5 linked regions of the Homo sapiens genome follow. The protein of the gene in region 3 purifies or fractionates together with the protein of the main gene of each other region. This does not show direct contact. Each region holds a gene or a part of one and is shown on either strand. Other genes may lie near its edges.

Evidence for each region.
Region 1: the proteins of CYRIB (region 3) and PPIL3 fractionate together in Homo sapiens (co-fractionation; one large-scale study listed by BioGRID). This does not show direct contact.
Region 2: the proteins of CYRIB (region 3) and TALDO1 fractionate together in Homo sapiens (co-fractionation; one large-scale study listed by BioGRID). This does not show direct contact.
Region 4: the proteins of CYRIB (region 3) and PPME1 purify together in Homo sapiens (affinity purification with mass spectrometry; one large-scale study listed by BioGRID and IntAct). This does not show direct contact.
Region 5: the proteins of CYRIB (region 3) and LGALS9 purify together in Homo sapiens (co-immunoprecipitation; one large-scale study listed by IntAct). This does not show direct contact.

The regions. Positions count from the first base shown.
Region 1 is NC_000002.12:200,871,268-200,877,258, forward strand, and holds part of PPIL3 (peptidyl-prolyl cis-trans isomerase-like 3), read right to left. Parts: intron 5,771-5,991; coding exon 5,652-5,770; intron 255-5,651; coding exon 128-254; 3' UTR 1-127. UniProt on the Homo sapiens protein: PPIases accelerate the folding of proteins. It catalyzes the cis-trans isomerization of proline imidic peptide bonds in oligopeptides. May be involved in pre-mRNA splicing.
Region 2 is NC_000011.10:756,450-762,440, reverse strand, and holds part of TALDO1 (transaldolase), read right to left. Parts: intron 3,492-5,991; coding exon 3,384-3,491; intron 2,320-3,383; coding exon 2,188-2,319; intron 1-2,187. UniProt on the Homo sapiens protein: Catalyzes the rate-limiting step of the non-oxidative phase in the pentose phosphate pathway. Catalyzes the reversible conversion of sedheptulose-7-phosphate and D-glyceraldehyde 3-phosphate into erythrose-4-phosphate and beta-D-fructose 6-phosphate.
Region 3 is NC_000008.11:129,854,747-129,860,737, reverse strand, and holds part of CYRIB (CYFIP-related Rac1 interactor B), read left to right. Parts: intron 1-4,990; coding exon 4,991-5,127; intron 5,128-5,991. UniProt on the Homo sapiens protein: Negatively regulates RAC1 signaling and RAC1-driven cytoskeletal remodeling. Regulates chemotaxis, cell migration and epithelial polarization by controlling the polarity, plasticity, duration and extent of protrusions.
Region 4 is NC_000011.10:74,246,568-74,252,558, forward strand, and holds part of PPME1 (protein phosphatase methylesterase 1), read left to right. Parts: intron 1-511; coding exon 512-556; intron 557-3,578; exon of another isoform or gene 3,579-3,755; intron 3,756-4,386; coding exon 4,387-4,451; coding exon of another isoform or gene 4,452-4,691; exon of another isoform or gene 4,692-5,063; intron 5,064-5,080; coding exon 5,081-5,148; intron 5,149-5,846; exon of another isoform or gene 5,847-5,985; intron 5,986-5,991. UniProt on the Homo sapiens protein: Demethylates proteins that have been reversibly carboxymethylated. Demethylates PPP2CB (in vitro) and PPP2CA. Binding to PPP2CA displaces the manganese ion and inactivates the enzyme.
Region 5 is NC_000017.11:27,640,315-27,646,305, reverse strand, and holds part of LGALS9 (galectin-9), read right to left. Parts: intron 5,735-5,991; coding exon 5,533-5,734; intron 4,069-5,532; coding exon 3,958-4,068; intron 2,782-3,957; coding exon 2,686-2,781; intron 2,474-2,685; coding exon of another isoform or gene 2,348-2,473; exon of another isoform or gene 2,271-2,347; intron 993-2,270; coding exon 957-992; intron 446-956; coding exon 395-445; intron 1-394. UniProt on the Homo sapiens protein: Binds galactosides. Has high affinity for the Forssman pentasaccharide. Ligand for HAVCR2/TIM3. Binding to HAVCR2 induces T-helper type 1 lymphocyte (Th1) death.

The sequences.
Region 1 (5,991 bases), on a different chromosome or scaffold from region 3:
TTTCATAGAAGATCATAGTTGTAAACAAGCAGAAGGATGATGCAATCTCTGACATAATTAAAACCGGGTAAACCACAATAAGTGTGTTCCAGCAATTTGTCAAGTTATTTGTCCAGGTCTATCATAGCTACTGAGCAAATGGGTTGGCATGAATAGTTATGTCCTTAATGTGTACATCATTAAGAGGTCGGTATGTCTTCTCATTTACTGGCAACTTCTCCAACTCATCTAGAGTTTCCAGACCATCTATTACCCTGAAAGAGAAACAACATAACATATGAAAATTTCCTTAAATTGAAACATGATATCCATATCTATGACAATTACAGTCTCCTTAAAAAATAATCAAGTCTTACAGATCTCTGAGTTCTCTAGTTGAATGTACAACAAAATGTTGATTTTCCATCATAGATATGGATCAAAATTCAGAAATAATTTACTTTTATGCCCTTAGTCAACAATACAAAGGGTAGGAATATTTCCACCATAGTACCTAAAATTATATTCTACCCCATTCATACAGTGACAGAGAACAGCTACAAATGGGACTAATATAACCAGTTAAAGGGAAAACAAACTGTTTTTCTACACTTTCATACTTCCAACACCAAATGTGTGGGTTTTCCCAGTTCTCCAATTCTCTGGGTATCCCACAACTTGATTATTTTTTCAAAATTTTATTTAATTTTTTAAAGACAGGATCTCACTGGGACTACAAATGCATGCCCCCACACCTGGCCCTATAATTTAATTGTGACACTAACTACAAGGAGTGAACAGAGACCCCGGTTAATCCCACAAGACAGCCCCTACCACTTCGGATGCCAGTTCCAAGTCCCGATTGTGATCTGTACTATCTGACTAACCATGATATAATTTGGGATTTTTCATGCCCCCCAGCTCTGTTCAATAATTTTCAAAAATGGCTCATAGAACTTAGGAAAGCACTTTATTTATTACTATGGGCTATTATAAAGGTTACAACTCAGGAACAACCAAATGGAGGAGATGCATAGGGCAAAGTCTGAGAGAGGGGCACAGCGCTTCCATGCTCTTCTCGGGGTGTGTTACCCTCTTAGTATCTACTTGTGTTCACCAACCTGGAAGCTCTCAAACCCTGTTTAGGGTTTTTACGGAGGGCACATTAGGTAGGCACGATTAATTAAATCACTGGCCACTAGTGACTGGAACTCAATCTCCAGCCCTTCTCTCCTTCCCAGAGGTCAAGAATAGGAGGTCACTGAATGTTCCACCCCTCTAAAAATACATGGCTGATTCCTCTGGCAACCAGCCCTCCATACTGAAGCTATCTAGAACCCCACCAAGAGTCACCTCATTAGCATAAACTCAGGTATGGTTGAATGGGGTTTATTATGAACAATAAAATATTCCTTTCACTCCTGTCACTCAGGAAATTGCAAGGTTTTTAAAAGAACTATGCTGGAAACCACGGATGAAGTCCAAATATGTATGTCTTATTACAACACACTAGTCATAAAGATTTCTTTGCTACAGGAAATACATGGAGAAAGTATGTAGATGACACTATTAGCAATACTGCCCTACAATGAGAGTCCTAAAGTAGGTGACCACTCCACTTTGTACTTGTTTTTTTTTTTTTTGAGATGAAGTCTCGCTCTGGTCCCCCAGACTGGAGTGCAATGGTGTGATCTCGGCTCACTGCAACCTCTCCTCCTGGGTTCAAGCAATTCTCCTGCCTCAGCCTCCCAAGTAGCTGGGATTATAGGAGCCTACCACCACGCCTGGCTAATTTTTGTATTTTTAGTAGAGACGGAGTTTCAGCATGTTGGCCAGGCTGGTCTGGCCTGACCTCAGGTGATCCGCCCGCCTTGGCCTCCCAAAGTGTTGGGATTCAGGCATGAGCCACCAAGCCCAGCAGTTAATTGTTTAATTATAGTATTTCTTTCTTTTTTTTTTTTTTTGAGATGGAGTCTCACTTCCATTGCCCAGGTTGGAGTGCAGTAGCACTATCTCGACTCATTGTAGCCTCTTCCTTCAGGTTCAAGCAATTCTGCATCAGCCTCCCAAGCAGCTGGGACTACAGGCACATGCCCCCATGCCCAGCTAATTTTTGTGTTTTTAGTAGAGATGGGATTTCACCACATTGGCCAGGCTGGTCTCAAACTCTTGACCTCAAGTGATCTGCCCACGTCAGCCTCCCAAAGTGCTGGGGTTATAGGCATGAGCCACCACGTCTGGCCTAATTATGGCATTTCTACTTTTTGCTTCTGGATAACAACAAGAAGTAATAAAAATAGGAGAAGAGAAGACTGACAGTTAACAGCCTCCAGCAATCCCACTTCATGTTACCACCAAGAAAAAATATATTGAGAGCTATTCTTCAAATACAAGTTTTGGAAATTTCAGTCTAAAACATTTGCTAAGAAAGAGTGGCTTTTGATCTCTTGACCTCGTGATCTGCCCGCCTTGGCCTCCCAAAGTGCTAGGATTACAAGCGTGAGTCACTGCACCTGGTCATCTGACTGCATTTTGACTGCAACCCGTCACATGAGGTCAGATGTGGAATTTTCTACTTGTGGCATCATGTCAGTGCTCAAAAAGTTCCTAATTTTTAATTTTCAGATTAGGGATTCTCAACCACTGGTATGTACTTTAAAAAATTAACAGATTTGTAGGCCTGGCGCAGTGGCTCACGCCTGTAATCTCAGCACTTTGGGAGGCCAAGGCGGGCGGATCACGAGGTCGGGAGATTGAGACCATCCTGGCTAACATGGTGAAACCCCGTCTCTACTAAAAATACAAAAAATTAGCCGGGCGCGGTGGCGGGCGCCTGTAGTCCCAGCTACTTGGGAGGCTGAGGCAGGAGAATGGCGTGAACCCAGGAGGGTGAGCTTGCAGTGAGCTGAGATGGCGCCACTGCATTCCAGCCTGGGCGACAGAGTGAGACTCTGTCTCAAAAAAAAAAAAAAAAAAAAATTAGCAGATTTGCATTTTATTTTGCATTTTCACAAAATGGGTACTTCAACCAAAACATTTTGATTTTACCCCTAAATATAGACATTTAAGTCTTTAAATTATAAGTCTTAAAGGCTATCCCACCTTCTAGGTCAGTAAGAGAAACAGAGGAGGTAGAAAACATAGGTCTCAGGTAAAAAGTTAAAAAAACCCAGCAGGTAGAACTGAGGCAGTTAAGTAGAGTCAAGTATATGGGAAACGGACCCCTTGGAGAACTAGAGGAAAGTTACTGGATCATCTTCCCAGAAAAATGTGTGTGCATCTGTATACAACAAACAAGGAATTAATGAACCTAAGGTTAATCTTTGTTCTAAACTCTACAGTTTTGTCGCAAATCCAGTAAAATGAGTCCTGGTAATAACTGAACAATAATTTTGAATGATGTTGGTTAAGGGAGAAAATAAGAGGGAAACTGGGTTATTTACAAACATAAAAAAACTACTAGATGTTGTAATATTTCTTTTCTCCTTGATTATTATTAATGTGTAAATTAGATACATGTATATGGAATGAAAAAGAAAAGATCTGTCTAGATCTCACTGCAGCCTTGACACCCTGAGCCCAGCAATCCTCTCACTTCAGCCTCCCAAGTAGCTGGGACCATAGGTGTGAGCCACCACACCTGGATAATTTTTAAATTTTTTTGTAGAGACGGGGTTTCACTATGTTACCTAGACTGGGAGTCCTCTATTTTTAATTAACCTAATTTGGCATCCAAACTATTAAATAGAACAAACTCTAGAATTGTGCCTTGGTTTATTAAGCATGATAATTATTTGTTGAACGAACAGACAAATTGACTTCCCACTGATTTATAAAAGCAACTCCCAGACATAGTACTCTTAATAGATACCCTGGCAGAAACTGTGAAATACCTTCCTAGGAGCCATTCTTCTTACTCGGAGAAATCTAATTTTAGTAAGGGTGGCAATGTGGCTGAAATACATTTTCTACCCTCCATTGTAGGTAAGGAGTGGTCACATTACTAAGTTCTGGGTCTTCTGGGAAAGTTTTTTTTTTTTGAGACGGAGTCTCGCTTTGTCACCAGGCTGGAGTGCAGTGGCGCAATCTTGGCTCACTGCAATCTCCACCTCCAGGGTTCAAGCCATTCTCCTGCCTCAGCTTCCTGAGTAGCTGGAATTACAGGCACGCACCACCGCACCCAGCTAATTTTTGTATTTTTAGTAGAGATGGGGTTTCACCATGTTGGCCTGGATGGTCTTGATCTCCTGACCTCATGATCTGCCCTCCTTGGCCTCCCAAAGTGCTGGGATTACAGGTGTGAGCCACCGCACCCGGCTTTTCTTTTTTTCTATCTTTTTTTTTTTAGAGATAGGGTATCATTGTTGCCCAGGCTGGAGTACAGAAGTGTGATCTCAGCTCATGCAGCCTGGAACTCCTGGGCTCAAGTGATTCTCCCACCTCAGCCTCCTGAGTAGTTGGGATTACAGGTGTGTGTCACCACACTTGGCTAATTTTTAAATTTTTTTTATAGAGATGGGTTCTGCTATGTTCCACAGGCTGGTCTTGAACTCCTGGCCTCAAGTGATCCTCCTGTCTCAGCCTCCCAAAGCACTGGGATTACAGGCCTGGGAAAGTTCTGTTAATTAAAAAAGGTGAATCAGCTGGCAAGCACCTTTTGTCTTTCCTCCCCTTTCCTCCCTGATACACAGAAGTTTTGATAAGAGCTGTGCTGCCAATATTATGACAGAGGCGCCTAGAACACTGGTAACAAAATGGAACCACCATGCCAGTCCATCTTGTTTAAGCCACTATTTTTCAGATCTGTTAGTTGCTGTGAAATGCTATCATTAATGAAAATGGACCAGCCTGGGCAACATAGTGAGACCATGTCTCTAAAAAAAAAGTGTTTTTTTTGTTTTTTTTTTTTTTAAAGTAGCTGCGCATGATGGTACACATTTGTGGTTCCAGTTACTCAAGAGGCTGAGGTGAGAAGATCACTTGAGACCAGGAGGTTGAGGCTGCAATGAGCCATGACTGTGCTACTGCACCATACTCCAGCCTGGCGACAGAGCCTTTCGTCTCAAAAAAAGAAAAAGAAAAAGAAAATAGATATACTATGTTAATTTGCATAACAATATTGAAAAATTACTGGCCTCTTTTACAAAATAAGGAAAATAAAGCTCAGGGAGATTATAACTTTCCCAAGGTCACAGGGTTGCTAAGTGGTAGACTTAAACTCCAGGTACGTTTAGCTCTCACACCACTCTTCTTTTCTTTCTTTTCTTTTCATTTTTTTTTTTTTTTTTTGAGGCAGAGTCTCACTCTGTCGCCCAGGCTGGAGTGCAATGGCATGATCACGGCTCACTGTAACTTCCGCCTCCCAGGTTCAAGCAATTCTCCTGCTTCAGCCTCCTGAGTAGCTGGGACTACAGGTGTGTGCCACCACATCCAACTAATTTTTTAAAATATTTTTAGTAGAGACAGGGGTTCTGCCACATTGGCCAGGCTGGTCTCGAACTCCTGACCTCAGACAATCTGCCCACCTTGGCCTCCCAAAGTGCTGGGATTACAGGTGTGAGGCACTGCGCTCGGCCTCACTCTTTTCAATATTAGTTATGCTACTGTCACAGCTAAGCATATGCACCACTTGCATTGAAATGCTAAAAGAAAACCATAACCAGAATACTCACTTTCCAAATACGGTGTATTTCATGTCCAAATGTGGCTGTTTGCCATAGGTGATGAAGAACTGAGATCCATTGGTGTTCGGGCCATTATTAGCCATAGATACAACACCTCTAACATTGTGCTGAAAAAGACACATCAAAGTATTAACTGTGTTTTTATATAACCATCCCAAATATAGTATTGAAACAAGACAGGCACACCTTTGTTTTCTTTTTTAAAAATATTTTGAGATTGGGGTCTCACTATGTTGCTCAGGCTGGTCTCTAACTCCTAGGCTCAAGTGATCCTCCTGCCTTAGCTTCCAAAGTGTTGGGATTACAGGTGTGAATCAGCACACCCAGC
Region 2 (5,991 bases), on a different chromosome or scaffold from region 3:
AGCAGCAGATGTGTTCAGAGCAGCAGCATACATCACAGCCCGAGAAATGGAAACCGACCACAGCAATATACATCACAGCTCAAGAGATGGAAACTGACCAGGTGTCCACCAACAGATGAATAACTGTGGCCTATCCATAAAATGGAGTATTTTCCAACATATAAAAACAAATGGTCCGGCCAGGTGCAGTGGCTCAAACCTGTGATCCCAACACTTTGGGAGGCCGAGGCGGGCGGATCACCTGAGGCTGGGAGTTTGAGATCAGCCTGACTAACATGAGAAACCCCATCTCTACTAAAAATATAAAATTAGGCGGGAGTGGTGGCGCCTGCCTGTAATCCCAGCTACTCCGGAGGCTGAGGCAGGAGAATCTCTTGAACCCCAGAGGTGGAGGTTGCAGTGAGCTGAGATAGCACCATTGCACTCCAGCATGGACGAGAATGAAACTCCGTCTCAAAAACAAAAAAAAACAAAAAAACACACAAATGAGGCCAGGCACAATGGCTCATGCCTATAATCCCAGCACTTTGGGAGGCCAAGATGGGTAGAGATCTCTTGAGCCCAGGGGTTCGAGACCAGCCTGGGGAACGTGGTGAAATTACCCAGGAGTGGTATGTGTGCTTGTCATCCCAGCCACTTGGGGGACTGAGGTGGAAAGATAGCTTGAGCCTGGAGTCAAGGCTGCAGTGAGCCAAGTTCGTGCCACTGCACTCCAGCCGTGGTGAAAAAGTGAGATGCTATCTCAGAGCAGGTCAGTGATGGCAGGTGGTAGAACATGCAGACACACAGATGTGGAAACAAAACACCTCTTCCTGATGCGAATTATTTGAGTATAGCATTGGCTGCTTCTGGGTGAGAACATCATAGAGGAGTTTTACTTTGTTTTATACATTTTCTGTCTCTTCCACTCTGAACGTACATATGTTTGGTTTGGTTTTTCTGAGACAGGGTCTCACTCTGTCACCCAGGCTGGAGTGCAGTGGTACGATCATAGCTACTGGAACCTCAACTTCCCAGGCTCAAGCGATCCTCCCGCCTCAGCCTCCTAAGTAGCTGGAATCACAGGGGTGGGCTAGTTTTTCTTTTCTTTTTTTTTTTTTTTTTTGAGATGGAGTCTCATTCTGTCACCCAGGCTGGAGTACAATGGTGCAATCTCGGCTCACTGCAACGTCCACCTCCCAGGTTGAAGTGATTCTCCTGCTTCAGCCTCCCATGTAGCTAGGATTACAGGCACCTGCCACCACGCCCAGCTAAATTTTTTGTAGTTTTGGTAGAGACGGGGTTCCACTATCTTGGCCAGCCTGGTCTCGAACTCCTGACCTCAGGTGATCTACCCACCTCAGGCTTCCAGAGTGCTAGGATTACAGGTATGAGCCACCGTGCCCGGCCTAAAAGTTTTCTTTTCTTTTTGAGACAGAGTCTTGCTCTGTCACCCAGACTGGAGTGCAGTGGTGTGATCTCAGCTAACTGCAACCTTCGCCTCCTGGGTTCAAGCAATTCTCCTGCCTCAGCCTCCTAAATGGGACTACAGGTGTGTGCCACCATGCCCGGCTAATTTTTTATATTTTTTAGTGGAGTCGGGGTTTCACCGTGTTAGCCAGGATGGTCTCGATCTCCTGACCTCGTGATCCCCACGCCTCGGCCTCCCAAAGTGCTGGGAGCCACCGTGCCCAGCCTAAAATTTCTTTATATTTTTGTAGAGACAAGGTTTCACTTTGTTGCCCAGGCTGGTCTGGAACTCCTGGGCTCAAGTGATCCTCCCATCTCAGCCTCCCAAATTGCTGGGATTACAGGCATGAGCCATCTTGCCCAGCCAGCATATATTTTATATAACAATAGTTTACTTTTTAAAAATCATGTAAACATAGGCTTGTGTTGATCAGGACAGAGGAAGGACAGAATCTGAATCTGCAGGTGCTAACTAGTGGCTTTTCTTCTCTGCTGAGTGGGTGGATGGTACTTCCTGGGAAATCCCTCATTTCTGATCACCAGCAAGTGAGGGAGCTGGCTCTGGAGCAGAGGGCAGATCTAGGCTGACATGAGCTGGTCAAGTCCAAGCTGTGGGCTGTGCTCCCCAGTCTGGCATTCCCCAGGGCTGAGAGAGTCAAACTTGCCTGATGCCATGTAGACCCTGCTCCAACAGAGGAAAAATCTCTGAGAGCTCCTTCCTTGTGGGGGACCACTTACTTTCCAGCCTGAATTCCTTCCCAGGTTGATGACAGCTTTATAAGAATTCGGTCCTTGCTGATCCCAGCTTCCTTGTAGAGCTCGATGAGCCGCCTGGCTCTGGCCACCATCGCATCTTTATCAAAGGAGAGCCTGTAGGAGCAAGAAGAACCCATCCCCTCAGATCACGCAGGTTGCCCACCACGCAGAGCAAGCTGGAGGCCGGGTGTCTGCCTGTCAGTTTTGAGCAGCACCACCGTGAGCACCAACCACTGCCCTCAACCTTCCCCTCACTGGAGGTTTGCAGAATGGCTCTGACAGCAACTCACACCCAGTCTCACAAACAGAGGTCCTCAGTGGGATCCATAGGCTATAATTTGTATTAAAAAACACTGGGCCAGGTGCCGTGGCTCACGCCTGTAATCCCAACACTTTGGGAGGCTGAGGCGGGAAGATCACAAGGTCAAGGGATCGAGACCATCCTGGCCAACATGGTGAAACCCTGTCGCTACTAAAAATACAAAAAAATTAGCTGGGTATGGTGGCGGGTGTCTGTAGTCCCAGCTACTTGGGAGGCTGAGGCAGGAGAATCGCTTGAACCCGGGAGGTGAAGGTTGCAGTGAGCTGAGATCACACCACTGCACTCTACACTGGCAACAGAGCGAGACTCTGTCTCAAAAAACAAACAAAACAAATCAAAACAAAAAACACTAGCAGCCGGGCACAGTGGCTCATGCCTGTGATCCCAGCACTTTGGGAGGCCGAGGCAGGTGGATCATGACGTCAGGAGTTCAAGACCAGCCTGGCCAAAATGGTCAAACCCCATCTCTATTAAAAATACAACAAATTAGCTGGGCATGGTGGCAGGTGCCTGTAATCTCAGCTACTTGGGAGGCTGAGGCAGAGAAACGCTTCAAGCCGGGAGACAGAGGTTGCAGTGAGCTGAGATTGCGCCACTGTACTCCAGCCTGGGTGACAGTGCGAGACTCCATCTCAAAAATAAATAAAAATAAAAATAAAAAACACTAGAGATCAGTTGCTAAACAAGGAGCTCTTGGTCATCACTACCAACTGTGGGAGAGCTCAAAATAAACCTCCTCTTGGGCCCTTGGGATGAAGACCATGGGTGGAGCAGCCCCTTGACCTCATGTTGGCATCCACGTGTGCAACTGTGGACACCTGACCAGCCCATCCAGTGCAGGAGCAAGCATCCTTACCTTGCGTCTACTTCTGTGGATACTCGGCCCGGAATCTTCTTTAGTATTTCTGCTCCAAACAACACAAAAAGTTTATCAATAGCATTTTTAATCTGGTCCTCTTGTGACCTGAAATTCAAAGGGAAAAAAAGCAGGTTAGAAGCTTCTGAGGTTCGCCAGGTGCGGTGGCTCACGCCTGTAATCCCAGCACTTTGGGAGGCCGAGGTGGGCGGATCATGAGGTCAGGAGATCAAGACCATCCTGGCTAACACGGTGAAACCCCGTCTCCACTAAAAATATTAAAAAATTAGCTGGGCATGGTGGCGGGTGCCTGTAGTCCTAGTTACTAGGGAGGCTGAGGCAGGAGAATGACGTGAACCTGGGAGGTGGAGCTTGCAGTGAGCAGAGATCGTGCCACTGCACTCCAGCCTGAGCGACAGAGCGAGACTCCATCTCAAGAAAAAAAAAAAGAAGCTTCTGAGGTTCAAGTGCACAAGACTCTACAAAATAAATTCTGTTATTTCTTTGCCAAATTTCCTTCCCTCCATCTTTTTTTTTCTCTTAAAACATTTTTTTATTGTGGCCAAATAATACATATAACATAAAATTTCCCATCTTATCCTTTTTTTTTTCCCCCAAGACAGGGTCTCCAGCTAAGGCTGGAAGCACAGTAGTGTGATTATGGCTCATTACAGCCTTGACCTCCCGGGCTCAAGTGATCCTCCTGCCTCAGCCTCCCAAGTAGCTGGGACTACAGCTGCACACCTCTATACCTGGCTAATTTTTTTGTTTTGTTGAGATGGAGTGTCACTCTGTCGCCCAGGCTGGAGTGCAGTGGCACAATCTCGGCTCTGCCAGCTCTGCCCCCCGCGGTTCACGCCATTCTCCTGCCTCAACCTCCTGAGTAGCTGGGACTACAGGCGCCCGCCACTGTGCCCGGCTAATTTTTTTGTATTTTTGGTGGAGACGGGGTTTCACCGTGTTAGCCAGGATGGTCTCGATCTCCTGACCTCGTGATCCGCCTGTCTTGGCCTCTCAAAGTGCTGGGATTACAGGCGTGAGCCACCACGCCTGGCCCATGCCCAGCTAATTTTTATATTTTTTTGTAGAGACAGAGTTTTGCCCTATTGCCTAGACTGTTCTCGAACTCTTAGGCTGAAGGGATCCTCCCATCTTGGCCTACCAAAGCACTGGGGTTACAGGCGTGCACCACTGCCCCCAGCCCACCATTTTAAAATGTATTCAGCACATTCACAGTTCTGTACAACCATCACCATCCATCTCCAGAGCTCTTTTCATCATCCCAAACTGCATCCCTCTATCTTTTGGCACTTGCAAAATATTATATTTTCTATCTCTTCAAAGTTATTGGACAGACACCCAGTGAAGTCCATGATTCTGTTCCAAAATCTGAGCAGCCTTGTTAGCCCACTACACACAGGAAGATCTTCAGCTAGACGCTCAGAGGTTAGAATTCTTGGGCCAGACTGGGTGCAGTGGCTCACGCCTGTAATCACAGCACCCTGGCAGGCCAAGGTGGGCAGACTGCTCAAGCTCAGGAGTTCGAAACCAGCTAGGGCAACATGGTGAAACCCTGCCTCTAAAAACAAATACAAATATTAGCCAGGTGTGGTGGCGTGCACCTGTAGTCCCAGCTACTTGGGAGGCTGAGGTGGGAGGCTGGCTTGAGCCTAGGATGTAGAGGCTGCAGTGAGCTGAGATTGTGACACTGCACTCCAGCCTAGGTGACAGAGCCAAACTCTATCTCAAAAAAAAAAAAAAAAAAAAATTTGGGGCCATCTGGACATGGGTGCAGGGCTCATCTGTTGATCACCCAGCCAAGCAAAGGCACCAATGTCACCCAATAACAGGAGCACCAAGGCCTCACTGATGCCACAGGGGTGCAACACCACGAGATGAGGAAAAGGGAGCTAAGAAGAGAGAGGAGAGGGTCAGACTCAGTGTCCAGAGTGGCTGTCACAACATGGTCAGGGGAGCCACTCACCAGCCACCTGGACCTAAGCAAAGCCAGTACCAGAGAGGGACCTGCTCCTGTGTGGTGCCCACGTTGCCTGCTCGGCACCATCTTCAAGCTTTGAATTATTACCCTGAAGAGAATCTAAAATGACATCTAAAATATGCAAAGCCACAGGCATGAAGAGGGCTCTACAGTTGCTTGGTTGGGTAAGGGAGTGGGGAGCTACTGCAAACAGGTACCAGAGAACATTCTGGGAGTTATAAAAGCTATTAAAAAATTAAAAAGCCAGGCACGGTGGCTCACGTCTGTAATCCGAGCACTGTGGGAGGCCAAGGCAGGTGGATCACTTGAGGTAAGAAGTTCGAGACCGGCCTGGCCAACATGGTGAAACCCTGTCTCCACCAAAAATACAAAAATTATAGCCAGGTGTGATGGCGCATGCCTGTAATCCCAGCTGCTCGGCAGGCTGAGGCAGGAGAATCGCTTGAATCTGGGAGGCAGAGGTTGCGGTGAGCCGAGATTGTGCCAGTGCACTCCAGCCTGGACAACAAAAGCAAAACTCTGTCTCAAAAAAAAAAAAAAAAAAAATACAAAAATGAGCCAGGAGTGGTGGCACACACCTGTAAGCCCAGCTAATTGGGAAGCTGAGGC
Region 3 (5,991 bases):
TTTTTTAATATCTTACTATATTTATATTTGCTATTTGGCCATTTGTATTTGTAACTTCTGAAGTTGAAGTTCCATTTTTTAAAAATGCCTATGTTCTTAAAAAAAAGTAAGACAGTTGCTGTTTTTCCTTTAGATGCAGTACAGCCTGTTAAATGTAATGTTAAGACAGACAGTAGTTTGGATAGAAATATTGTATAAATTATCTTTTTCTTACTGGAAATAAGAATTGTAATTTATTTTCCCAATTTTAGTATTAGTTATTTTACAGTATTTGTCTTTCAATCAAGAGTCTCTATAGTTTGTAGCTTTGCACTTTATAACCCAATCAGCCTAGGTTTTCTGTCTTGGTTGTCTTCTCTACTATATACAGCTTTTCTTACGCTGGTTTCTGGCTGCATTTATAGTTAAATTGCTTTTGATGGTGCTCAGATGCTATTCAAGCTCATCTTGGTCTTTTAGCATATCCCAATACACAAAGAATAATTGTAAAATAGGCCAAACTAGTTGGACTTAAGTGTTATATTTTTACCATGGGAATTAATCGGTCTCGTGGTGTGTGTCCCATCATGGGTGCTATTCCAGCACAAACAGCACCATGGAGCAGCATGCAACTATGAAGACACACATGATCCTTCAGAATCTTGCAGTTCTAAGGAGAAGGTTTCTTGGCCTGAGCACTACAGATACACCATGGGTTATACTTCAGAAGAAGGACCCTGATCCCTTGCCAGTTTGCATACTTACAATGGGACAGGGCAAGGATTACCTGCTTAATTTGAAGATACTCAGTTTTGCTGACAGGGTTTAACTACACTGCCCTGGTAAATGTGGGCGGCAAGCCACCCAGGTGCCGAGGCAAGAGACCGAGGACACGAGTTGTTCCAGTATAATAAAATATGAAACAAGAATAGTTATACCAGATATAGATCTTAGATATGATTACATATGAATATCATTAATCATTAATTGGTACAATTACTCTTTATTCCAATATTATAATAATCCTCGCTCTATAATCATAACCTAGGAAAAGCCAGGCCATACAGAGATAGGAGCTGAGGGGACATAGTGAGGAGTGACCAGAAGACAAGAGTGCGAGCCTTCTGTTATGCCCAGGCAGGGCCACCAGAGGCCTCCTTAGTCTAGCGGTGACACCAGCGTCTGGGAAGATGGCCGTTGCCAAGCGGACTGTGGTCTAGCGGTAGCCTCAGTGTCAAGGAAAAACACCCGCTACTTAGCAGACTGGGAAAGGGAGTCTCCCTTTCCCCGGGGGAGTTTAGAGAAGACTCTGCTCCTCCACCTCCTGTGGAGGGCCTGACATTAGTCAGGCCCACCTGCAGTTATCCGGAGGCCTAACCATCTCCCTGTGATGCTGAGCTTCAGTGGTCGCGCTCCTAGTCCGCCTTTATGTTCCATCTTGTACACCTGGCTCTGCCGTTTAGTTAGCAGTAGCAAATTAGTGAAAGTACTAAAAGTCCCTGATAAGCAGAAATAATAATGTAAGCTGTTTCGCTCTTTCTCCTCTCTCTCTCTGCCTTGGCTGCCAGGCAGGGAAGGGCCCCCTGTCCAGTGGACATGTGACCCATGTGGCCTTCCCTATCATTGGAGATGGCTCACACTCCTTATCCTGCCCCTTCGTCTTGTATCCAATAAATATCAGTGCAGCCTAGCATTCGGGGCCACTACCGGTCTCTGCGTCTTGGTGGTAGTGGTCCCCCGGGCCCAGCTGTCTTTTCTTTTATCTTTGTCTTGTGTCTTTATTTCTACACTCTCTCGTCTCTGCACACGGGGAGAAACCCACCGACCCTGTGGGGCTGGACCCTACAGTAAACTTGCCATACTTGCTTGTTCTGTACTTGCTTGTTTTGTTCTGAGGCCTTGGAGCCCCTCCTGTTGAGGCAGATACCTAAGGGAAGGTTGTATGGTCAGGTAGTAGGACAAACTGCTTTGTCTCCCCTCAGTCTTGCTCATGCTTTAGGGGCTTACATTAGGGACTGCCTCCAAGGGTCATAATAAGTCCCTTCAACATGTTAGCTTCGTTTCACTGGGCAGAATTTATCAAAATGTATTTTAAAGGCCCCAAATGCCCACCGTTAATTGTGGTCATGACTCTTGGTTGTCTTAAATCCTTTAGAATCCATGTCCTCAGGTTCTCTTCTGAGAGTTTGAGAGTAGATAGATGGCAGTTGATGAGAATAAACGACTGTTGTCTCTATAGGGAAACTCTCCCCAGGGGCCTCCTCTTCCTAATCAACTAGTTATTCTTCCCTGTCCTAGCTTGTGGACTGATTTGTCATCTTTATCATTCCTTCTAGTTGTCTTTTCCTTGCAACCTCCTTCTGTGGTTTTGGCTCCTGCACTCATCTGCCAGCTTCCTTTGGTTCTTCCAGAACTTAGGGCTTAATAGACTATTAATTTTCTCCTGGTCATCTGCTTTTTAAAAAATCATAATCTCATGGTTTTGTTTTAGGAGCTTCATCTGAGTCCAATCCCAGGCATCTTTTCTTTGTCCTCTCTTTCTCTCCAACTCATCCAGAGACCTCTGGGACATTTTCTGTGGGATTGTCTCCAGTTTCTCTCTTGAGACAGAGCATTGTAGGCTAGTAGGACTGACTTGTGCCAGCACAGGCCTGCAGGGTGAGGCTGATCTAGCTGCTTCAAAGGCAGATTAGCAGATTTATCATCTTGAGCTTCCCTTTCAACATAGATCTACCATGGAGGGCCTCAGCCATTCATAGACAAAAGTTCTGCAACTACTGGTCACTGACCATCCCAACTTAGTCAAGCGACCTGACTCCAGTCCCAAAAGTGGTAGAGAACTTGGAATGCTGAAATTAACCCTGAGACTTGATAAAGTCTAGGCAGATGCATTTTTCTTTTTTTCTTTAACAGACTATAATAATATTTTGTAAAAATGTTTTTTTCTGTTCGGTGTCTCTCTTACTTAGTTTTCCAGTTAACACCAACAGAAAGAATGAATCTTGGGAGAAGTAAACCATTTTTAAAATATAACCCAAAATGTTTGACTTTTAATTGATCTTCTTCACATCCACTGTTACACCTTGATACACCATCCATACCCCTATAGTCCATGCTCCACACTGCAAATGAAGTAGCATTTTAAAATGCGAATCTGCTGACGCCACTCCTCTGCTTAGATGATTTCTCTAGGGACATTAGGATGCCAAAGCCCGAGTACTTAATGTGGTCCACAAATTACATGTGTATGAATCATCTTAGTCCTGGTTACCCTCCTCCTTGCCCTCTGTGCTCCTATATTGGTGGTGTTGCAGTTCCTCAAGTATGTCATGCTCTTCTCAGTTCAGGGTCTGGCTTCCTGCCTTTCTGTCTGCAAACTCATGTTCATCCTTACTACATACTTCAGTCTCAGTCCAGGAGTCATTTATTCAGGGAGATCTTTTCCTGGGCCTTCCATTAGGTGAGGTCTTATTTTTATACCTTTCCACTGTACTTATTTTCAGCACATATCACAGCTGTAATCATTTGTCTGTCTTCTCTCTATATAATAAGGCTCCATATGGGCACAGGGAGCATGTCTGTCTACATCCATTTTCCCAGTGCTTGGCACAGAGTAGCCAGTCAGTACATTTTCAGACTTACTGGAAAAAAAAGGATAATAGCTGTCATTTAGAGTTATTACATGGATGAGAAATAATGTCTGTGAAGAAATAGTTCAGTACCTGGTATCTGACAGACACACAGGAAGTACCTACTATTGTTTTTAATCAGTAGATTAATGTTTTGTAGGGTTACAGAAGTAATTGGTACTATTGGTAGTAATCAGGAGGTTAATGTTTTATAAAGTTACAGAGGCTACGTACAATGTTGCTTTATTTCAGAGACAGTTTATTGTGGTAGAAAGAATAGGGCTTTGGAGTCAGAAATACCTAGCATTTACTAGCTATAACTTTGGGCTCTAAGTTCTTTGAAACTCATTTGATCCATCTGGAATGACCATGTCATAGTTGATGGTAAAAATCAAATGGGAGACTATATTCAGTGTACAGTAGATGTTGACTCATACGTAAATCTTCATAAATAGGAAAACTGGGGTTTTTTTAAAGTTACGGGCTGATGACCTGACATAAAGTTTTAAATTTATCATTAATATTTGTTTGTTAATCTGACATTTATTAACATCAGATCATAGTTTAACTCTGTAAGCTCTTATTTTCTCTGACCAGAATCTAGCAGCATTTTCCAGTTCTGTGATCTGTAACTGAATTCATTTGATTTCTATGGCTTTTTGAAATATTGAAATGAAATATTAGTATTTAGTATTTAATATTAGTATTAGTATTTAGTATTTCCATTATCAAACATGGTATTTATTAGCCTGGCATCCCAAAAGTAGCACTTATTTCAAAGGGACCATTTTGCTCACATAATGAATTAGAATATTTATATTGTAGTCTTGAAATGTCAAGTTCTAAGACAAGAAGCTTATTGAACCACATATTTTGTTCTCTTTAGTAGCTGAAAGCAAACAGTTTGTGGTTATAAATAAAGGATGTATTCAAAGTATGAGAAATTGGTAATTGATTCATAGGCATATACAGACAGTGTGGACACAGTGCCATTGAAGAAAGTTACTCAGCTGTAGATAATAGTTACCATTTCATAAAACCAAATTCCACACTGTGTGAAGTGATTAAAGTAATATAAAACTTGCCCTTTGGTGTTGAATTCAAATTCACTTCTGCACTATTTTCAATCTGGGTTTACAGAATTATAAACCCTTGAATTAGTCCGTTTAAGGTTTTTATTCTGTTAAATAGTATTCAGAATGTGTGTAGTACATTAGCAATGGCAACATTTAAACTTCTTAATTAGTTTTATTATGTTTAGATCATCTGTTTTTTAAAGAGAACTTTTCTGGGAATTAACATTTATGAATTGTTCACTTTTTAATAAACAAATATCACACAGATACAAACAACTTAATGTTTTTTTCAATTTTTTTCTTTAGAAGCAGCATTAAGAGGTCTTCTGGGAGCCTTAACAAGTACCCCATATTCTCCCACCCAGCATCTAGAGCGAGAGCAGGCTCTTGCTAAACAGTTTGCAGAAATTCTTCATTTCACACTCCGGTTTGATGAACTCAAGGTAGAATTATCTATTGGCCCTGATTGTTACGAAAATCATGAATCTTTTAATGAGTACTAGGAGGAAGAGCCGGGAAACATTGTTAAAATGTATTTAAATGATGTCTGCTAGACCTTAATAAAAATGCAAAGCTGGATTTAGAAATTAATGACGGGTCTTTTGATACATGGCAAAGAGCAAATTACTGAGTATTCGGTCTCAATCTTTTTTTTTTTTTTTTGAGGCAGAGCCTTGCTTTGTCACTCAGGGTAGAGTGCAGTGGCGTGATCTCAGCTCACTGCAACCTCTCCCTCCTGGGCTCAAGTGATTCTCCCACCTCAACCTCCCAAGTAGCTGGGATTACAGGCATGTGCCACCACGCCTGGCTAATTTTTGTATTTTTAGTAGAGACGGGGTTTCACCATGTTGGCCAGGCTGATCTCGAACTCCTGACCTCAGGTGATCCACATGTCTCAGCAGTCTTCATTTAACCTTGTTTAAAAATTAATCTCCGAAACAAAAGGTTGAGCTTTTTTTCTAATACTTTTTCTTTTCTGCTCACACCCTCTACCCCCGTTTTTCAACATTCTTTTATATTAAAATGTTGCTAAAATTTCTTTTTTCTCCCTTCCTCCTTTCCCGCTTTCTTCCTTTCTTTCTGTTTCTTTTTTCCTCTGTCATTGTTTATAGTGTTTGGAACTATAAATACCTTGTTGTTAAAAAGAATGAATGTAAAGGAATAAGCACTAGGTCTCATATCAAGAGACCTGAGTTCCAGTTTATACTCTGCCACAGTAACCCTAGTCATGAGACGTTGGGCACGTCCTTTGATTTTTCAGGGCCTCTGGTACCCTGTCTAGAAAATGGAAGAGCTGGATTCCAAAC
Region 4 (5,991 bases), on a different chromosome or scaffold from region 3:
TAGGGGGACACAACTCAGTCCATAGCAGTGTTGGTATATTGTCATCTCAATATGACCTCATTAAAACTTCTCACCAAATGAGTAGTGACATCCAAAGTAGAGTACCTTCCTCATTCATCTATGCCTTTTCTCCTCCCCACACCCAGTCTCTAAACCTAACTAAGCATAAGCATTCATCTAAGCATAAAGGATGACCTAATTCTGGCCTGGCCTGTCTACTTGGTCAAGCTCAAGTCCTTCTTAGTCTAGAGCTAGATGCAGTGGTATAAGGATATTCTGATTATTATGAGAATTAAAATAGTAAAACCTTGTTTTCAGAACCAGTTTAACATAGTAATTATAGGGGAATCTCAACCTGAAAAGTTTTATCTGGTGGTGAGAGTATGCTCTGGGAGTTAGGATTGGTATAAACATGAATGGAGAATGTCATCATATTTAAAACTTTGTAACACTTTTTACTTAATACGTGAACAGCAAAATCTGTTTCACAATGAATTCTCTTGTTTTCTAGGTGTTGATAGATTGGATAAAGATCTGACCATTGGCCAGATGCAAGGTAAGTTATCAAGAAATTATACCCCTGGACCCTTTTCTGAAGAAAGGGTGATAGGGCAGTTAACATCCTGAGATAGTGAGGTATAACGGAGAAAGCATGAGCTTTAGAGTCCGACCCAAGTTGGACATCCGCCTCTACTCCTAACACACTATATGATTATGGGCAAGTATTTCCCTTTCCTGAGCTTTAATTTGTTTAAAAAAAAATCCATCCAAAAATGAAGATTATAATACTACTACCTATGTCTCAGTTATAAGAGTTAAAATGAGGCAATGTGTTTAAAAATTATAAAGTACTGTATAGGTGTATGATACTGTGAAAAGAGATATTCTGACTACTGATCAGTTTTTTGTTTGTGGGTTTTTTTTTTTTTTTTTTTTTTGAATTGGAGTCTCACTCTGTTGCCCAGGCTGGAGTGCGGTGGGACCAATCTCGGCTCACTGCAACCTCTACCTCCCAGGTTGAAGCAGTTCCGGGCCTCACCCACCCCAGTAGTGGGATTACAGGCATGCACCACCACGCCCAGCTAATTTTTGTATTTTTAGTAGAGATGGAGTTTCACCATTTTGGCCAGGCTGGTCTCAAGCTCCTGACCTCAAGTGATCCACCTGCCTTGGCCTCCCAGAGTGCGAAGATTATAGGTGTGAGCCACTGCAGCTGGCCAGTATTTTTCTTATTGTTAGAAGTTTTAGGAAAGGGAAAGGCTCAAGATAATCCAGATATAAAAAGGTATAAATACCTGTTTAGAAGACAGCATGGTAAGATGGTAAAAGTAAGGTCTCTGAAGTTCGGAAAACTGAGTTTTGAATACTGCTTTTCCAGTAATTTTTTGACTCTGGGCAAGTTATCTGACTTGCCTCAGCTTTAGTCTTCTTAATCTGGAAAATGAAAAAACTGATGGCAGCCTCAAACAGATCGTGGGGTATAATGAGTAGGAAAGTGACATGCTGAGCACTGTATACAGATGCATGTATGTTAGCTAGATAACAGTGGAGGCAGCGGGTCCAATTTTGTGGGGGCTCTTGCTTTAGTACGGGTAAAAGACTCAGTGAAGGTGAAGCCAGTAGGCATACAACTTTTGGGTTATGGGAAGAAGAGGTGCCAACTCCAAGACCAAAGTTTCAGGCTCAGGCAGAATCTGTTCTAGACCTTTCTTCCCTACTTACTCTCCCTGGACAATTTCATGGCTTCCATTTATATATTGATGACTCCCAAAGCTAAACATCCACCTCACCCCTCTCTCCTGAGATCCAGTCCTAGCCTATGTAGCAAACCTGCTGGATATCTCATGGGCCTCTCAAACTGTTCTTTTAGCTATCCTCAAGCTTTCCACAGCAAAAGGAGCTATATTCTCTCATAATAGTTGTTCAAAGGCTCTCACATATAAAACTCTGGTCCCAGACCTTCATGGCTTTGCCTTCCTTTAACTACATTGTATCCTGAGGCCTAGAATAGGACTATGAGCTGGGACTGTGTGATTTTTTTTCCATGGCACTGATGTTGGTAATTATGGGCTTAGACACTTATTTAAGTAGATGCTTATAAATGTCTAAGCCCGTAATTACCAACATGAGTGCCATGAAATTGAATCTAAGACACTTAAGTTCAATTCAAGAAACCTTTCCTAGGCACCCTTTCTGTGCAAGACCTATGCATGATGCTGGGCAGACAGAAGAATCAGATATGGCCCCTGAGACTGCCTGAAGGCAGTTGACATGGACTGGGATAGCATTTGAAATCATTGTTGATCACCAGCCTTGGAATCAGACAATCCTGGGTTTGAATCACTGTTAATAGTTTTGCGGTATGAGTGAATTCCTAACTTATTTAATTTTGAGTTTCTTCATCTGTGAAATGGAGATAATGATATATCTCAGTACAGTTACATGAAGTTTAAATGAAAAAAATGCGGGTAGTCTAACAAATGATGCCTTTCATTATATTCAGGAAGTAATCACGATTCCTTATGAGATGTCCTCCTGTTTCCTCAATATGGATTATATCAAGACCACCTTCTGGTTTAAAGAAAGCCTCCTATGAGTATAGAGAGTAAATGGCGAGGATAAGGAACATTCCACAGAACAAAGGGAAATGGCTAAGGCTGCATAGATTCCAAACCACAGCTTTGCCAGCACTGTGTTCAAACCAACTGACTTAGTTATGAAATCCTGGAAAACTACCACCTATTCATAGTACCCCTTGGGTAAATAATTTAGGCTCTCTGAACCTAAGGCTCCTAATCTGTGCAATGGGAGAGAAGAGTTTGGAAATATTCCCACCTCATAGAATAATCATGAGGATTACCCATGAACATGTTATTTTATGTGTACCTGGCACAGTGTTGTTGGTGTATGTGAGTTCTCTCTGATTATACCTACTCTTCCAAAGAGGAAGGACAAATGCGTCCCTAGTCATCAGAGCTGATCTAACAGAAAGAACAGGGAGATTGGAGTTGTAAGTTTTGGATCTAGTCATTTGTTCATCATTCATTCGCTAAAGACTTAAGCATCTACTCAGTGCCCTACCCTGTGTTAGGTCTTATTAGGGATATAGAGCAAGTAATAACACCATTGTCCCCTGTTCTTATGGAAATGACACACTCCTGGGGAGGCAAGCACCAGTGGCATGTAAAATGTAAACTTACTTGAAACTTACAAGAGGGCCATGTGCTGCTCTGTGTTTGGATCCAAGTGCATTAACAACTTTAGGAGCTAGAAGGGAGAGGTGACTAGGCTTGAGCACCCAGAGAGAGGCAGCTTACTGCAGGAGGAGGGGCACAGGATGGACTTTACTAAATGGGATCATCTTATTCCTCCACTAATTAATGAAGTGGCCTTGGGCAGGTTACTTCACTAATCATGGCCTCAGTTTCATCATCTCAGAAAAGAATTTCAGTATTTTTGTGCTTAATTGTATAGGGTAGATTTTGAGAATCAACTTTAAAAATGGATAGAAGAATACACTGAAAACTTTTGAATCCTGCGTAACTGGGGTAAGAACCACAGGATGTAATGACCAGAAGAACTTTCAAGCCCATTCCTTTATTTTATAAATAGAGAATCTGAGGCTGAGAAAATCTGCTGTCTCTACTTATGGGGGCTCTGGGTCTCATATCCTTTAGTCTCCTTAGGGATCTTCTTTATCAGTCATCGCTGTTCATTCTCAATCATTGTCGCATTAGTTACGAGCTTACAGTGTTCTGTAAGACAGTATGAGAAAGTGCTTAGTACAATGCCTGGCACATGCTTAAGTGCTCAGATGGTAACTTATTATTGTAATAATACATTTTGAATCCTTAACATAGCTTACAAAATCCTTAATGGTTTGGCCCCTGCTTACCTCTCCAGCCTTATTGTTAACCACTCTCATAAGCACCATGCCAAGCTTCTTGTATTCCAAGCCATTTCAAGCCTTCCTTCCTTCCTGGTTCCCTCTTGGATTGTGAAGTTCCCTTTCTTATGCTCTTACAGCCCCATGTAGCCAGTTTTATCATAGGAATGACATGCTGCATTAAAATGTTGGTTTTTGTGTTTTACTCCCCTACTGGACTGTAAATCCCCTGAGGACAAGAACTGTTTCTTCTATGTGTCTCTGGCCCACAGTAAATGTACACTAAATAGGACAGAAGGAAAAAGTGAAGGGAAATGATTGGCGCAAGGTTACAATTACTTGTATTACCATCCTCAGCAAGACTTGATAATTGGGTCCAGAGTATTGAGGTGAGGTTGGAAATGGGGAGGTAGGTCCTGGGCTCCTGGAATGACCTATGAGGCTGCATAAGAGAGGGCTCTTTTAGTCGCTGAAGTTGCCTTGCTTTGATTCCTCTCCAGGGAAGTTCCAGATGCAGGTCCTACCCCAGTGTGGCCATGCAGTCCATGAGGATGCCCCTGACAAGGTGAGTCTGGTGCTCAGTGACTGTAAAAGGACAACTGTGAGAATAACCCTGGATGTCACAGAAGACAAGTCTCTGAGTCTCAGCCTGCATTGCCTGCAGCAGCTGCTGTGGAGCCTATGCAGATGCAGTTCCACCAGCTCTCCAACTTCTCCCTGGCAGCTGCTTATGGTATTGGTTTTGTGTATATGTGCTGAGGAGCTACTGACACTCTGCTATTTCATCCCAGGGCCCTGTGGTTAAGATCTTAAGCTCTACTTCTCCAATACCCCCAAAAGCCAGAGATGGAAGAGGGATGATTAGGGTAGAAACTGCTCCCTAAACCACAGGCACAGTTAGGAATTAATATGGGCTCCTCCTGTGAGAAAACACCATTCTGTAACTCTGAGGGCACACATAAGCCCTTCACGTCATTCCTCTTGAGCTCTATGGAGCTATCCCTGGCAAGGATAGTGGGGAGGAGTCTTCTAGCTCTGCTAGGGAGGGCCTAGGTCCTTTTAATTTCAAGCCACTCAGACCTGTGGGTGGGATGAGGGCACCGTAGAGCCTAACCATCTAACAGTAGCTCACAGCCCAAGGCTAAGCCCCATCACTAACCTTTATATGGCCTGGAATATCTCTCCCATTTCCAGGTAGCTGAAGCTGTTGCCACTTTCCTGATCCGGCACAGGTTTGCAGAACCCATCGGTGGATTCCAGTGGTAAGGCGGGTACAAGGGTTTAAGAACCCAGCAGTGCTGGCCGAATCTGACAAGCAGACACTTGTAGGACTGTAAATATCTCTGCCTTACCCCTGCCTGGTTTGGTCACCATGCCTTTCTTCCTCCTCCTCAGTGAAGAGCCTGGCATGTCTGTTTCTACAAAGCCATGGTTGGTTGTTTCTTTGTGCTGTGCTCCCACGGGTTGATGCTGAGGCTGTGATTAAATTGTGCCTAGTCTCACTCCCCACTGTGATGTGCATTTCTTCTTGAGGTGCCCCTTTGAGGAGGCTGGGATAGGAATCAGTCCTTTTCCAGGCTCCTAGAGAAGTTTTCTTTGGCTTCTCCTGCCCTGCTGCCAAGGAAAGCTGGGCAGGCCATGGAGCAGGGCTTTTTTTTTTTTTTTTTTTTCTTGGCACAGTCTTGGTTCACTGCAACCTCTGCCACCTGGGCTCAAGTGATCCAGTGCCTCAGTCTCCCGAGTAGCTGGGATCACAGGCGTACGCCACCGTACCCGGCTAATTTTGTTTTTTTTTTTGTTTTTTTTTTTTTTTAGTAAAGATGGTGGTTTCTCCATGTTGGCCAGGCTGGTCTTGAACTCCTGGCCTCAAGTGATCCACCCGCATCGGCCTCCTAAAGTGTTGGGATTATAGGGATTATAGGCACAAGCCACCGCGCCTGGCCTAGAGCAGGGTTTTCTACAGTGTTGCACAGTGTCTTCCCATGGCCAGCTACTAAGCAAGCTGGGAATGGAATGGGTGCCTCTGCCAGGCTTGCTTCCCCTCCCTTTCCGAAGCTGGCAGAATATTAGCCACTCTGCAGGGGTGATCCTGGAAGCTCTAGAGC
Region 5 (5,991 bases), on a different chromosome or scaffold from region 3:
CTAAGCCCCCCTGCCTCATTTGCACCATCAGGAGAAGAGCTTAAGCCTGTGATCAATAGTGACATCCTGGGGACCCAGGATGCAGGGCCAGGAACCTCACATCCGGGTGCTGGGGCCACTGTACTCCCCACTTGGTGACAGATGGACCAGTTTCCCTCCCGGTCTCTAGGGGACTTGTCTCTTCCACCACTGGATAAACCCTGCTTCTTCCAGAATCTCTGCTGTCCCAAGGACAGCTTTAGCCACATGTCACCTGAGCCAAGCACTCAGCCCCTAGTGTCCCCATCCTCCTTGCTAAACCGCTTTCTTCCCGACTCTAGGGCTCTAGGGAGTTTAGTTTTTGGTGAAGGAGGACACTGTGCAGCTGTGAACTGACCAGAACTTGTAGACTTACAGAGAACATCTGTCCAGGGGCGCTCTGCACTGTGTGGATGACTGTCTGGGTCTGGAAGAAAGAAACCAGGTCTCACCCAGGCTCTCACGTGTGAAAACCACCAGCTCCCACCAGAGGGCGCCACACGGCAGGCACCCTCCAGGGGGCGTAACAAGCCCAATGGCCCCACAGACCCCACAGAGGGTGGGCCCAGGTGTCTCTTCTCTCAAGGGGATGAGCGAGGGGCAAAGGTTAGAACCCTGGAGAAGACAGATGGGGACGCTGGTGGCTCTGGCCCATCTTTCCTCTCGGGGAAACGTCTCTCAGCCTAGCCTCCCTTTGCAGGTGACAGAAGTGAATGTGGGGCATGGTCTTCCGTGGCTGCCCACGGGGTGGCAACTCAGGTTGTTTCATCCAACCCCCACATCCAACCCCCAACCTCACCAGGCCGGGCAGATGGTCAAGGGTCTGGTCTGTGCCCTCCCCACTCCCAATGGGAGAGGCCCAATGCCTGGCCCTGCCTCCTCCATGAGCCCAGAAAAGCCAAAATGAGGACGATCCAAAAAGAAAGCAAGAGACTTACAATGGGAGCCGGGTTGGCAGGCCACACGCCGGGAGGCTGGAGGGGTGAGGAGAGTCAGAATGGTGGTTATCGCGGGCACCACAGAATGGGAGGAGATGGTGGCAAAACTCCAGGGAGGCTCTTGTGCTCAGAAATGCCTCCCCGGACACACCCACCTCCCTCTTGCTCCCAAGCAAGCCTTCCTGAGCCCGTGGCACCCAGATTTTTACCCCCAGGTGTACAGGGCTTTGGGGTTGGGGGGTAGGGTATCCCCACTGGTTCCTCTCGAGAGAGAGGAGACTGGGTTTGATAGAGACCTCATTGCTTTCTGTAGCTCCCACAGCGAAGAGCATTACTTCCAGTGCCATATTTCACCCATAAGGTGAGAAGTGGTATTTGTTGAAGGCCTATTGTGGGTCGATTCCTGGGCTTCAGTGCTTTCCAACAAGGGAAGCAGCCTCAGCTCCTGTGTCCCTAGTGAGGCAACGAGGCTCAGAAAGATTAAGCAACTTGCCCAAGCTTGCCAAGGTGGAAGGGATCAAATCCAAAGTGGCAGCCAGTTCTGTCTGACTGTATCCAGCACACTTTCTATCCTCCCCAGAGCCAGGGCCAGCGCCAGGGCCAGGGCCAAAGTTGGGCTGCCCTGCAAATGTTCCCTGGGGCTCGACCAGTCCTGAAGTCAGCGTGGCAGGAGGCAGGTGCCCTGTCTGTACGGTGATGAGCCATAAGAAGACTGCGTAGACAAAGCGCCCCTCCTCCCAGTCCCCACTACTTGAGTGGCCGGAGGAAGGGCTGCTCACCTCCTTGTCCTGGATCCTGCCCCACCCAGTAGACTGTTCTTGCCCTGGCTGGTATCCCATTCTCCCTGGCTGTGTGAACCACATTCCACATTCATTCACTGAGTCCCTACTGAGTGCCAGGCACAGTGCAAATGAACAAGCCACAGTCCTGGCCCTCTGGGGCCTCATGGGCATAGGGACATGGGGGTGGAGTAACGGGGACAGACACGCAAATACAGTTACAATGGGGTGCTGTGAACTGGCATGGCACAGATACATACAGACTCTGTGGGGACACCAGGGGAGCGTCCAACAATATTCCAGGCGGGGAGGACTCCCAGAGGAGCGGCACTTAGGCAGAGCATGGAAGGGCAATTAGGCATGTGCTCGAGGCAGGCTGGCAGAGGGTGCTTCCGGGACCAGGGACAGCATATGCAAAAGCATGGTGGCCCAAGAGGGCCTTGAGTGAGCTGCAGAGGCTGCGTGAGCTTCGTGGGTTGGGGGTGAGGCAGGGACGTGGATTGGGGCAGACTGGGGAGGAATTCATATACCCTGCTGGAGAATTTGGGCTTTATTTGAAGGGCTGGGGGCTGTGAAGATTTTTAAGCAGGGAGAGGGTGTGATCACATTTGCTTATAAGAAGGTCACTGTGGCAGTGGTTGGGTGTAGGGGGTGGGGAACTGGACCCCTGTCGTCATGGTGAGGAATCCCAGAGGCCTGGACCACATCGGTGGCTTCAGGAGGGAGACACGTTCGTGCCTTGGAGAGACGTAAAGAAGAGGGAGTGAAGAATCCAGGGTGACCCCCAGGTCCCCAGCTCTGGGTGCCCAGCGGACAGAGACAGGGAACTCTTGGGTGGGCAAGATGCGGCCTGTAGGCCCTGAGTGGCCTGCTGGCTGGGGCCAGCCTCTCAGACCCTCGGTCCTTCCTACTGTCTGCTCGGCCACCCAGGGCCTCTGTGTTGAACTCACTTTTTGTCTGCGCCCCCTGGGCCTGGGTGGGAAACAGACAGGCTGGGAGAACGGCACCGTGGAGAAGGCAGGCTGAACAGGGACTGTGCGGGGGTTCTGTTAAAACAAAAGGCACCGGGCAGTGAGGAGAAGCATTAATAGAGCCAAGGAGAAGCCGAAAGGCAGAGGCAGGGGCAAGAGGGAGAGACCAGGCAGGCAGGGCGATGAGGCAAGGGGGTTAGGGCCCTGCCAAGATGGGATGGGAAAGAGCCAGGCTCTGGTGAGCAGTGCAGGGGTGCGGTCTCCCTCCAGCTCTTCCCTCCCCTACCACCCGCAGGGGAGAGAGTCAGGGAAGGAGGGAATGAGAGATGAGGACCAAAGGGCGAGAAGCCCAGATTTGCTGAGGGCCTACTGTGTGCTTCGCTGATCTCAGGGAGCAGCCTCGAATGCCAAAAGGGTAACAGCAGCTCCCACCCAGCTGCTGGTGCCCTGTGGGAATGTGGGCCCAGCATACCCTAATCTTCCCATTTTTCACATGGTATTGGTATCTCCTGACCTTATTTAGTTTTATTTATTTTATTTTATTATTTAAACAAAGTTTTTTGGAGACAGGGTCTTGCTGTTTTGCCCAGACAGAACTCTAATTCCTGGGCTCAAGCAATTCTCCCACCTCAGCCTCTTGAGTAGCCAGGACTGCAGACCTCCACCACCATACCTGACTCTCCTGACCTTTTAGATGTTGGCAACACATTCAAAGTTGTTAAAACACAGAGGTCAAACAGACCCTGGTGTGGGCCCAGGGGGGCCACTGTGTGACCTCTGATATCTGTCTCCTCACTGAACCACACAACCACCCATGGGGGGCAGGCAATGACCATTCTACAGATGAAGAAACCAAGGCTGAGAGAGGTGAAGTTGCTTGTCTAAGATCCCACAGATGATGAATGGCAGAGCTGGGAATTTGAACTGGATTCAGTTTGGTTCTTGAGCCTGGGCTCTTTCTAGAACAATATGCCCTCCTTACCAGGATGGAAACTGAGGGATGAAGAGAAAGGGGCAGCTGAGGAGTCTGGGAGACCAAGGCAGGTGTTCCGGACAGAGACAGTAACACAGAAGGAGGGGCAGAGTGACAGAGGAGAAGGGGCGGGCAGGTACTGGGACAGGGAAGCAGAGGTTGTCCCCAGAGTGACCTGGGTAGGAGATTGGCTTGGGCCCACCCAGCAGGGCTTAGACACAGCTACGCTGGGCCCTGCATCCCAGCCCCTGGGACCGGTGCCAGGTGGACAGTCTGACCTGGAAGCTGATGTAGGACAGCTGCACAGAGCCATTGACGGAGATGGTGTCCACACGGTGGAAGGGCACGCGGTGGAAGTACTGCACGAAGAGGATCCCGTTCACCATCACCTGCCAGAGGAGAGCACATGTTCTGGGGGAGGCATCCCAGGCTGGGATGGGGACCACCCCTGAGCTCCTGGACCCTCTTTCTAGAAAATGAAGACCTGAGTCTGGTCTTCAGTGTGGGGCCAGTTACAGGAACGTGTGTGTGACCCAAAGTGCATCAACCCGAGTCTCTACCAGGCTCCAGTTGGACTTTTCGTTCTTCTGGTTGTTTCCTGCAGTAGGTTTGTCTTTCTAGTCTTAGCTCACCTGGGGTTTCATTTATTAATTATTTATTTTTCCTTCAACTGTTTTTTTTTGTTTTTTGAGATGGAATGTCAGTCTGTCGCCCAGGCTGGAGTGCAGTGGGTCAAGTGATTCTCGTGCCTCAGCCTCCCGAGTAGCTGGGATTACAGGAGCCCACCACCATACCCAGCTAATTTTTGTATTTTTAGTAGAGATGGGGTTTCACCATGTTGGCCAGGCTGGTCTTGGACTCCTGACCTGAAGCGATCCGCCCTCCTCAGCCTCCCAAAGTGCTGAGATTATAGGCGTGATCTGCCATTTCCATCCCCTTCAACTTTGATTTTAAGTTCCAGGGTGCAAGTACAGGATGTGCAGATTTGTTAACTAGGTAAACGGGTGCCATGGTGGTTTGCTGCAGAGATCAACCCATCACCTTGGTATCAAGCCCAGCATCCATTAGCTAATCTTCCTGATGCTCTCCCTCTCCGACCAGGCCCAAGGGTGTGTTGTTTCCCCCCATTTTGTCCATGTGTTCTCATCGTTCAGCTCCTACTTATAAGTAAGAACATGTGGTGTTTGGTTTTCTGCTCCTGCGTTAGTTTAAGGATAAAGGCTTCCAGCTCCATCCATGTTCCTGCAAAGGACATGATCTCATTCCTTTTTATGGCTGCAGCGGTATTATTTATATATGCATAAAATGCTCATGGGGAGCAGAGGAGAGGTGACCTCAGGTTGCATACTGAACGAATGGGGACATCCTTATCTCAGATAAGCATACTTGGACTGACTTACCCACAGGCTTCTCAAGCCCAGAGACCTACTCTGCTTGCAAGGGTAATTTGCAATGTGCTTACAAAACTATACCCTTAATAGACCCTGGATAAAGGCTGGAACGATGTCGCTGAAAAATAAATGTTACCAGTGACCTGGAGAGGAGGAATGGCTATAGCAGAGGAATGGAATGAGCTTGGAATTCAAAGACACACAACACCAAATAGCAACGTGATGACTCCTCTAGTTCTTATTTTCAGAGTAAAAGAAGCAGCAGGTGCACCTGTAGATTCAGATGAAGGTGCATAAGGAGACTAGGCAGCCATGGGTAACACCTCACAAGGAAATGAGCGTGTTATCTGTATAGTGGTGTCACTCTGGCTGAATGTCAATTTAGGTGATTACTTAAAGGCCATTCACCTGATAGGGCTGGGGGTCCCAGGGGTGAGAGGTGGGGAGGGGATTCTTGCTCACCTTGAAATCTGAGCTCTGCACCAGGAAGCAGAGGTCAAAGGGCATCCCCTTCTGGAAAGGCATGTGTGTCTTCCTCTCCTCGGGCCCCCAGCTTCCGTTCTGCCTCGTGTTGCACACCACGTACCCTCCATCTTCAAACCGAGGGTTGAAGTGGAAGGCAATGTCATTTCCACTGAAGCCAGTCTGAAAGTTCACAGCAAACCTAGGCCCAGGGAAAGCAAATAGTCTTCTGTGGCATGGATTATTGCCAGTGACAGGCACAGGAGGGCCTCGGCGCCTGTGCTTTGCATTTGTCTGGATCTTGCACACAACCTGTATGGCAGAGACTGCTTTGTTGGCATCGTTTTTGTTTTTCTAATTGGGATCTAATGTGTTTTTGTTTTAATTATTGGATTTTGCCTTTACAGCATGATTTGCTAAAAGCAAATAGAAAACGGTTAAGGAAAAGTGCTGGTATTA